2 separate regions of the Homo sapiens genome follow, and region 1 is linked to region 2. The links come from fine-mapping of genetic effects on gene expression. Tissue or cell type: whole blood. Region 2 holds a variant in brackets; the other region holds the start of a gene. All regions are shown on one strand. Distances are between the middles of the regions.

Region 1 (5,155 bases), 170 kb after region 2:
TTAGCATCTTGGGAAACATCCGAGTTTATTTACTAATTTGAAAAACAAGAGATTATCCCTCTTCGAGTCTGAAAAAAAAATCGACGTTAAGTTTGTACCCCCTCTAATTTCATTTATTACGGAGAGCTAAAAAAGAGACGCTCGCCAGGAGTAAAGGTCTCTCTGCCTACCCCCCCCACCACCCCGCTTACGATTTAAAATTCTATTTCTGGGCTATTTTCATCGGAACGGTTTGTTACGTTAGAGGAACATCTATATTCCTGAGTCATTTGTCTGTATTGTGCCGGACAGGGCTTGCTGTGAGAAGTGTGGCTATGCAAATACATACTCACAAAAGAATATTTACATATGATGTTATATTTAAGTGTGTAAACAAATATACCTCTAAGTGTGGCTTAGGGGACATTTTCAAGTACTCTGAATATTAATGCAGACTTTCTGGAAGTTAAAGGTAACTTGATCATTATTTTGGATCTAATACTCTTAGTAAAAATAAGAGGAATTACAGAACATTAATATGTATATCTTCCGTATATTGGTTAAGGCATCAAAACAAATTAGCAGATAATTTAAGAAGTTCCGTCAAAACAACCTGAAACACTTGCAAAAAGAGAACACAATTATAACTTAATATATTAGTGTTTCTCAAATAGATGTAGATAGAAGCTGGATATAACCTTATGTTATACTACAATACTCACATTAAAATGTTCATGTTTGGTGAGTTTAAGGATTATGTATATCATGCTTTTTAGAAACGTTGTTTTCCCTTTTTAAAACATTTCATTTTTTGCCACTTTTAGGAGAGCTAATGTCTATAATTTTTCCGCAGCTATAGCTTTTAGGTATGAATACATTGTTATCAGTACTTGCTTTTGTTTTGTTACACCACAAAAGGGACAAAGTTTCAAAGTTATACGAATTTAGAAACAATTTCACATTGAGTCTTGGGTTACTCTTTGTAACTACTTTCTGATATTATCAGAGGAAAATAATCATACAACTTTAGTCCTTTATGAAAATCTGTTTTTAAGATTATTTAGCAGAAGGGCCAGTAATAGGGAGAGCTAAGAGGATACGGTGCTCAAGGTGCTCTCAAACTGAGGTGTTAAATACATATTCACAAATAACTCAAAAATAACCACTGTTAGAAGTCGGTTAAGGAATCAGGAGACCCACCAGCTACTTGTTTGCCTTTTTAAGTACATGACTTTTAGGTTTGAAGTCATATTTCATCTACTGAGCTTGAGGGAAAGATGACCACTTTGAAGGTAATCAGGGAAGTCACAGACACAACTATTGTGTAATTCAAACCAATAAATTTTCCCATGATCTCAGCTTTTTGGCTCATTGCATATTTAGGAATAGTAGTGTTGATAACAGATGGAGCCATGAGAAATCTTTAGTGTCTGACCACAGATTTCCACTGGCCTAAGGGAAGTTACTTTAAAAAATATTTCAAGGTTTTAAATTCATACATTAATAAATGCTCACAAAGTTCCAATGATGTTGTTTCATTAAACAGCAAATATCTTCCAGAAACAGGGCATTTCAAAATACAGTTTTTGTTTAAAAAAAAAAAAAAGCATTTATGGTAAAGCTCAGCTGACAGTCTGTGGACAGATGCACAGGTTCCAATAAAATTCAGGACCCCAAGGGTTTCCCCAGCTCTTGAATTATTTAAAATATACACGTAGTGTTGTAGTAGTTAAGTTTTAAAACGGTGCCTCAAAACTGGCTAGTTAAGGTACATTATTTACGAAAAATATATTGTGGAGGTGATTTTTCACCATCTCAAATGTCTGCGGAAAACTGTAGCTTGGTTATCTAGCAGTGGTGAATGAGTTGATTCTCATAGTCGACCAAAACCCAGGCCAACAATTTATTTATCTTTTTAGCTTTGCTTAAGAGTAAATGAGGAAAAAATTTCCATGTAAGGAAAAATAAGTAATGTAGTATGAATTACAGAAAATGCTGAGTCTCTTTAATTTCTATTGGTTTAAATAAAAAAACTCCACACACCTATAAATTTGAGTTCTCTTTCAGAAGAAACCGCTCCCCGCCTCGCCTCAGGCAGCTCTCTCCTATTCCTCTACTAACCAGTTACTTTAATCTGAGAAACTAATTTGCACTCAACTTGTGAGTGCCTTCACCTTCAGGGCAGAAGAAACACCGACTTTTAATGCATTTTTGCAAATAAATCATTACAATTTAATCACACACGACTCTATACAGACACACTCCCATGATTTATTATCGTTGGGCGAGTTTCCCCCTCCCCCAGCGTGAGATAACCAATTTTGTTTCGGGTAGGTGTCATAAACAAAACTTCCTACGATGCAGATTTGTTTACTGATTACCCATGACGATAACGACGACTACTAAGACAATAACACTCTCCAGTCCCACCTTTATTGCTTTTGGTAACAATAAAATCAAAATAAACAGGCACGCAAAACAAACGCCAAACAAAAAATCGGCCGCGTTACAATCTACTCCCTCGGCATTCCCAGCGCCTGGCAGCGTCCATCGATGCACTCGATATCTCGGCTGAAGCTGCCTGGCGCTAGAACCAGGAAGGCGCTGAGCTTAAACTGAAGCAAGTTCGGTGGACGCCGGCGGCGCCCTGATCTAAAGAAACGACTCAGGGACTGCGGCGCTTGCACGTCAACGGGAGGTGTGAGCCCAAAGGTCTGGACCCAGGTGATGCCCACGACCAGGGCCTGGGGAGCGGCAGCCGTGGCTGCGGAGCTCCGAGGCCCTGATCCGGCGAGAGGCGACGCGGGGCCTGGCGCAGTTTGCGGCTCAGTGTCTGTGGAGGGTGGGCTGCGGCCTCGGGGCGTGCGCAGTGTCACCGTGCGCATGCGTCCCGCACCTGGGAGGCTCCGGACTCCTTGGGTCAAGGCTGGTGGCTGTAGGGTGGGTGGGTGGCCGCAGGCCTCAAGCTTGGCCTTCTGTCTTGAGGACATGTCGGAGAGTTCGCCGACTCCTCCCCTCGCCCCACGTTCCTGGTTCTTCATAGCTGCTTTTGGGTTTCCTGGCTCATCTTGCAATATAAGCCTGGCGCTTCCTCACTAGCTCTAGGTAGGGTGGAGCAAGAGGGAGGCTGGATTCTGGTGCCCTCTATCCCATCCACTCCACTGTCCCTGCCTTAGATCCAGCTCTCTTTCTGATTCCGCCCTACCCTTTCTGGCTCACACTGGCTTGCTGAGAGAAGTGGTGCAGGGTGAAATAGATGTTCCTCTCTTGAAATATAAATATGCTCGCCTTAAACACACTATATATTCCTTTGACTTCTGTACTGGTGGCATGTGACCAAGAGCATATGGCTCTGTTTACTTTTGCAAGATGTTACAATGCACCGTAAGGCATGTTGCCTGCTCTTGATTTTAGGTTAACCTTGACGTAATTTCTCTCTCAGAGGTTGTGTATCTTTAAATGCACACTGGAAACCTAAACAAAAAAATATTTTTTTACACTTTCAGAATTAGCAGTAACCCAATTGTGTTCCAGCTAACTAGGTAGTAGATAAATAAATTCAAATGTCTTATGTTGTCACAAGAAAGCATTCGAGTTGTCATCTTTGAACTTAGATGTATTATAAAAGTTCTAAGTGAAGGAGGTAAGCAGAGTTCCCAGGTTTAAGATTTGGAGCAGGTGTGACAGTTGCAACCTTGGGGGAAACTAGGTATCCTTTAAGAGCCTCTCTAGTCTTAGAGTTTATAAATATTCACTTTCTTTGCAGGCAAAGATTTCATGCTAAGTGATATAACACTTTATGTTTTTCAATAAGAGGGCTAAAAATGTCAGAATCTGAAACGACAAAAACAGCTGGCACCTTCTGTTAATTGGCCTTGCCAACTCAACCAGTCTCACAAAGAGGGGTGTTATGAATTGGAAAAGTTCTGAAAGCGGGTTGTTTATAGTAGATCTATAGTTGTATTTCCTGCTTTCATGTTCAAACCATTGGGGATAAATTCCTATGATTGATCATGCTTTTTTAAAAAGAGAGATGCTTGCAAGTTTTTAATTGTGATGGGAGAAGTGTTTTGACAGAATTCTTTATCTCTTTTGAGATAAAGAGTTGTGTACTTGTTTATGGATTTCTTAATATGTTAGTTTTCACCCCAGTTTTACTTTTCTTCTTTGAGGTGGATTTCCCATTGAAATAACCATTGTTTTCACTTTTTCTGGCCATGTGTCCAGAATCAAGAAAATTATAGTTTGATATACTGAGTGAGTAGTGGAGAAGTAATTATAAGCTATCATGTCCTTTGGAAATCTTTGTTCTTCAAACTGATTGCCTGTTTTCTGAAAGAGATAACTGCTTCTTGTACCCTTATCAATAACTGGACAAAGGAACTACTTGTGTAGTCCTTTGAGTTCTCTTTTCTTGAATGACCACATGTTGGCTTTACCTCTTCAATCAGGCACGTGAACTTTACATTAAGATATTTCTGTAAATTGATCTCCTCCTGTAGTCATTACATGCCATGGCTTCAGTTCTGTAGTGGGAGTTGTTGGGTGAGTTTTGCAACCACGAGGCTACAACCAGGAAGAACTAGAGTGAGAACAGGAAACCAAGAGCTATAGGAGCTCTGTCCCATGTTGTCTCTTTCACCTACAGATAGATTGAAAATTGTCAGCTTGTAGGACTCTAAAAGCCTGTGCTCCATTCATCATTCATTGCCCTTATCAGAAAGAACTATCAATGTGTCTTTCCATTCATTGCACCTTACTGGTGGAGTTAAGTATAAAGAATTCTTCCTTACTAGGACTATGTAATATAAATTGATTACCATGTCTTGAATTGGCAAGTATATTTAATTACATGCTGATGATATTATGGAAATCCAGGGGTAAGTTTATGTCTGTGGTGGTGAGTAGGACTTCAGTACCTGTCATTTATAGAGAAGACAATTTTGGGATCTACTTTGTGATTTGCTGTTAGTATTCACTCCCTTTTGTGAATAAATGTTTGAAGTTAACTATAACAAAGAAATATGGTGACCTTTTGCTTTCTTTTATTGGGATTAATTATATTTCAGTGTAATTTTTCTGAAATGTAAATGTGTCACTTGAAATATTTATAGTTTTGTCACACTGGTTTTTCAAACTTTTCTTGGTTTCTCTAAGGAAGGATTTATTTTAAGTT
Region 2 (5,155 bases):
GCTTCCTTCTACTGAGGAGTATAACTAGTTGAATGATCAATAAACAATTAAAATAAGGCAAGCTAAGTGAGATTCCTCCCACTGCCCCACCAAAAAAAGATTGAGGACTTCAAATTTGGAAGTCTAATTTTATAGTTTTAATAACAAACTATAAAACCACACGTGTAACACCTGTCCAAAGCCAAGTGTTCAAGAAACACTTATGTGAAAAGAAGTTACATTCTGATTTTCCAGAAAGGGAAAAATTGTCACCCCTTAAACAGCTATCCAATCATTTAGCCGAAGATAGTCCCAAAACCAATGGCAAGGTGAGTGCCTACCTATGCCTACATTTTCACACAAGTACACTCAGCCAATAAGAATCAGAGAAAAGATAATTACAATCTTTCTTCACATTCTTCTTGTTTCTTACATAATATTTTCCTTTTAAGAGTGATAAATCACTCTCTTCTGATAAATGGGCTGTTAATTTGAGTAGGCTGCATTTCCTTCTCCCTGCTTCACTGTGTGTGTGTGTGTGTGTGTGTGTGTGTGTATACACATACGTACATAAAGATATATACACATATTCTTTCTAAATCATTTGAGAGTAAGTTGTATACATAATTGTTCTTTACTTGTTAAAATTTCAGTGTGTATTTTACACAAACAAGAATGTTATCATACATAACCACAGTAAAATTTTCAAAATTGGAAAATTGAACACTGATACAATACTATTGTCGTCATGCCATATTCCAGTTTCACCAATTGTCTGAAAAATGTCTTTTATAGTAATTTTCCCCTTTTGTTCAGGATCCAAACCAGGATCACACATTGCATTTAGTTGTCATGTATCTTTTGTCTCATTTAATCCAAATCGGTTACTCGGCCTTTCTTTGTCTTTCCCTGATCTTTACAGTTTTACAAAATAACAGGCCAGTTATGTTGTAGGATACCCCTCAACTTGGATTTGTCTGATGTTTTATAGTAAGTAGATTAAATTCAGGTTATGCATGTTCTTAGCAGGAATGGCATAAAAATGATACTGTGTCCTTCCCATGAGATCATATCAGGAGGCTCATAATGTTGGTTTATCCCATGAATGGTGATGCTCACTTTGATCATTTGGTGAAGGTGGCATCTTGCCAGGTGTTTCAGTGTAATATTATCATTTTTCTTTAAGTAATTGATGAATAATTTGGGGAGATATTTTGAAACTATCCTTTGAAATTTTGAAACTCTTCCTTATCAAATTTTTACCCACACTTTTAGCATCTATTAATGATCCTTTCCTGGTGCTTACAAAATGGTGGGTTTTTTTTAACTTCATCAATCTTCATTTTGTCTACATTTATTAGTTTGAGTTCTGCTGTAAGAAAGAGCTTTCTCCTCCCACTCCCTCATTTATTTATTTATTATTAGTATAGACTGATGAATTTTTGTTTTGTTCAATGTGTTATTATCCATTCATGTCTTATTTTTTGATGATCAAATCCACAAATACTTTAAATATGATGGTAGAAACAAGGACCATTTCTCAAATGTGAAAAAACTTTGACAGCTTTGAATGCAAAATAAATTGCCAAGAAATCAAACAAATTTGTTTTTTATTTCCTGCTTTTCCAAAAGAGTCAGATGTTAAAAAATAAAGTTTAGTGGAAATGTTAAAAAATAAGAAAATAAAAATTCATCAAAATTGAATATTGATATGAAAGAGGCAAGCCTTGAAATTATAGTCAAGTGGCCATTATTGCCTTCATAAAAACTTTCACATCTTTTGCCTTTCGTCTTTCTGGACCTTGTTTCATGGAGGCTTAGGGTGTAAATACAGACTTTTTATCAGATCAATCACTTTCCCACAGACCAGGTGCTATATACATTTACTGAATTGCTGTTTGAGATCATGATCACGTAGTTATAATCACTGTTGGTTAGTTTAATTTAATACAGAAAGACATTTTAGATGATCAGAAGCCTTCCCTTCATGAACAAAAACCATCAAATGTAGTCTTTTTTAAATTACTTCCTTTTAATGAACACAGTATAGCTTAGGGTTCTATCCCTTACTTCTAGATCAGATATTCTTTATTTTATGAATTTGCAGCCCTCTGATTTCATTTCATTGTTATTGTATGTTAAGTGCTTGAACTTAACATGGGGATATTGCTATTGTTATTTCTCAAAAGTAGCACCAAAATGCTTACCACTATGAACAAAAGAGCTAGCATTTACTGAGCACTTACTATTTCCCAGCCACACTGCAAAGCATTTGCATTCATTATTTCACTTAGTTCTTAAAACTGCACAAGGAAATAAATTCAGATGAGGATGCTGAGGCTGTAAAGGGCTGAGGCACCTGTCCAGTGTCTGACAGCTTATTATATGTTTTGGACAGGTAATTGTGAGAAAGCTCCAGCCAGTCTCTCCAGAGTCTC[G/A]AATGTGCTGTAATGCCCCTGCCAGAGGTGAAGGAGGAGGGGTTCTTCTTCTGATAACAAAACCAGAATCCTTAATCCCAGCCCGCCACATGATGTTATACCTCTTGAGCCATACTAAAGAAAACTCACTCCCCAGGATGGGAATCTAAGCTGGACTGCCTGAACTGCTCAGGCTCCCAACCTCAATTTTATCTTGGACTCCTCTTTCTCCCTCTCTTTCCCTTCCTCCTCACCATATCCAATTAGGCGTCAAATCCTAGCAAGTCTGCCTCCAAACTGTCAGATCCATTCTCTCCTTTCCACTGACTCTCTGCTAGTTACCCCACTTACTATTCACCTCCCTGCTGGGTTGTCTATTTCCTCTTTGGTCCTCCCTTTCAATCTTCATACCTGCAACAGCAAAGTTGTCTCAAACAGCCTGGATCATGACATTCACCTGTTCAGAAACACTCAAAGACTTCCCATTGCTTGCAACATGAATTCTTGTCAGTTTGGCGTTCAGAGATGCCTGCCATTTGGTCCTTACCTGCCTCACCAGTTTACTAATCCCCACTCCAGTCTCTCCACCTTCACTCCACATGCACTGCCATATCTGCAATTTCCTAAGCCATCCCTCCACATTCCAGCTGTCCCTCTACCTAGAACATCCTTCCTCTTCCACTCTTCCCTCAGTCCCCAATCCTCACTCCTGCTGTTGGTCTCATTTCTTCCTGTCAAAGACCTACATGTATAGTGAGGGCAAGGCCAGGCTTAAAAGAGTCAAAACCAGGCTATAAATTATCTATTAGGTAAGAAATACTTCAAAACTCTTTGTTCAAAAAGGGACTGCCTTAGTCAGGTTTAATCTCTCCTTCCTAGATAAGCCTGTTTCATTCTCTTTATGATTCTGTTGCTGTACTTATCAAATTCTGCTGCACGTGAAAGCTAATTGTGCACACCTCCAGCTCTCCCACCAGATTGTGAATGCCTGAGAAGTGAAAGCCATCTTAAACATCTTTGTTTCCTTACAGGCAGATGTTGAACCAAATCTCCAGTTATTGGTAGGAAAATTTGTGGTTATAGGGAGATGATTTTTTATTTGTCTGTAATAGGTAACAGTTATGAGATAGACAGATATACATCTCAATTACATATATTTGCTGTAAATACATATATACACACAGTTATACATAGTTACATATGTATATATAACTATGACTAATAGTAAAAACAAATAAATATTTATCAATTAAAATAAACTAAAGTTGTTGAGCGTAAATAGCTAATTATAAAATTTTATAAACCACATTTTCATTACTTGAGATTTGGCATCCACGCATCATTGTGTAATGAGATAGATATAGAACTTACATGGTTCTCTTCAATTACAAAATGAATAGATTTAAAGTGCAAAATGAAGTGGATATCTTTTAATATATAAAAAGCTCTTACAAATAGGAAGGAAAGCGCTAATTGCACAAAACAATAAAACAGGCAAACGGCACTAACAGCCACTTTTCAAAAAATAAATAAAATGGCTAATAAACATTGAAATTGCTTACTAGTAATCAGAAACTGCAAGTTAATATAATGGTGCATCTTTTTTAAATCCATCAACTTGGCTAAATTTTTCAAAGCTCATGACCATTCTCTCTGTTGGTAGGCTTCTAAATTGTTATAAACTCTCTGGAATGTATTTTGGTGATATGTATCAAGAGATTTAAAATATTCTTACTATTTGGCCCAATAACTGCCCTCCTGGAAATCTATCAAGAGAAAATAATCAGAAATGTAGGTAAAGATTTCTGTTAAAGAATTATCATCACAGAGTTACTCATAACAATAAAAAATTGGAAAAATCTAAATTATTAAATAATAAGAAATTCTATAACATCTATACAGTGGAATATTTTGCAATCATTAAAAATAACATTTTCAAAACCTATTTAATAATGTGCAAAATGACCAAAAGTAACAGGATAAAATAACTACACATTATGATCCTATTTTTGTTAAAATGTATTGGTGAGATAACAGGTAATTTTTTTATTTATACACATCTACTTTTCCCAAGTTTTTACACAGACAACATAGTTTTTATTCTTTAAAACCCAAAATGAAAATAAAAAGCGATACTTAATTGTCTTATTCCCAGTAGGAACCAAAACTCGAAGACCAAACAAGTCCGTTTTTTATTTCCTCAGCGAGTGAAAACGACCGACTTCAAGAAACTGCCAGAATGCTGCTCTAAGCTCCCATTTCAAAGAAATGGTGTGGTGTTTGTAATGGATAAATTTGAAGAGACAGCCAGTATTATTCTCATCTGTGATATATCATTTCTGCCTCTGATATAATCTTTAAAAAGAAAAAAAATCCACTTCCACTTCCCTTTAAGTCCCTACAACTGTACAGACACCACTTGGTAATAAAAACAGCCTTAAAACCATGTGCCTCATTATTTCACAGCTACTAACCATAAATAACAGTCTCATACTTTGGGGATTATAAATTATTCACATGAAAGTAACGCCAAATTATTAAAAGCCATTTGGATGAATCTGTGACCTCCTTTGGCAGCCACTGGTTTGAGTGACAGCCTGCAAGTCAGTGTGGTCAAAGCTTATATGGACTAGCCAAGACAAGCTCTTCCTCTTACTCACCAAGTTGCTTTGGTTTGAAGCCAGATGAACTACAATTCTGAGAAGAGAAAAAGTATTTTTCCATTCTGGAGCTCTGTTTGGGGTGATAAGTGTACCTTG

Evidence for each region. PIP is the estimated chance that this variant, and not a neighbour inherited with it, causes the effect.
Region 1: RSRC1 starts here. The variant in region 2 is fine-mapped to the expression of RSRC1 in whole blood (GTEx, PIP above 0.99).

The regions. Positions count from the first base shown.
Region 1 is chr3:158,107,521-158,112,675 of GRCh38, forward strand. It overlaps RSRC1 (arginine and serine rich coiled-coil 1), which reads left to right and starts at 2,569. Exons shown (of 10, transcript NM_001271838.2): 1 at 2,569-2,703. RefSeq lists enhancers at 2,230-2,731, 2,533-2,882, 2,732-3,231, 3,093-3,142.
Region 2 is chr3:157,933,585-157,938,739 of GRCh38, forward strand. No RefSeq gene overlaps it. Among named protein-coding and RNA genes, the nearest start is that of SHOX2, 170 kb to the right of the region's middle. The variant G/A (reference allele first, on the strand shown) is at 2,418.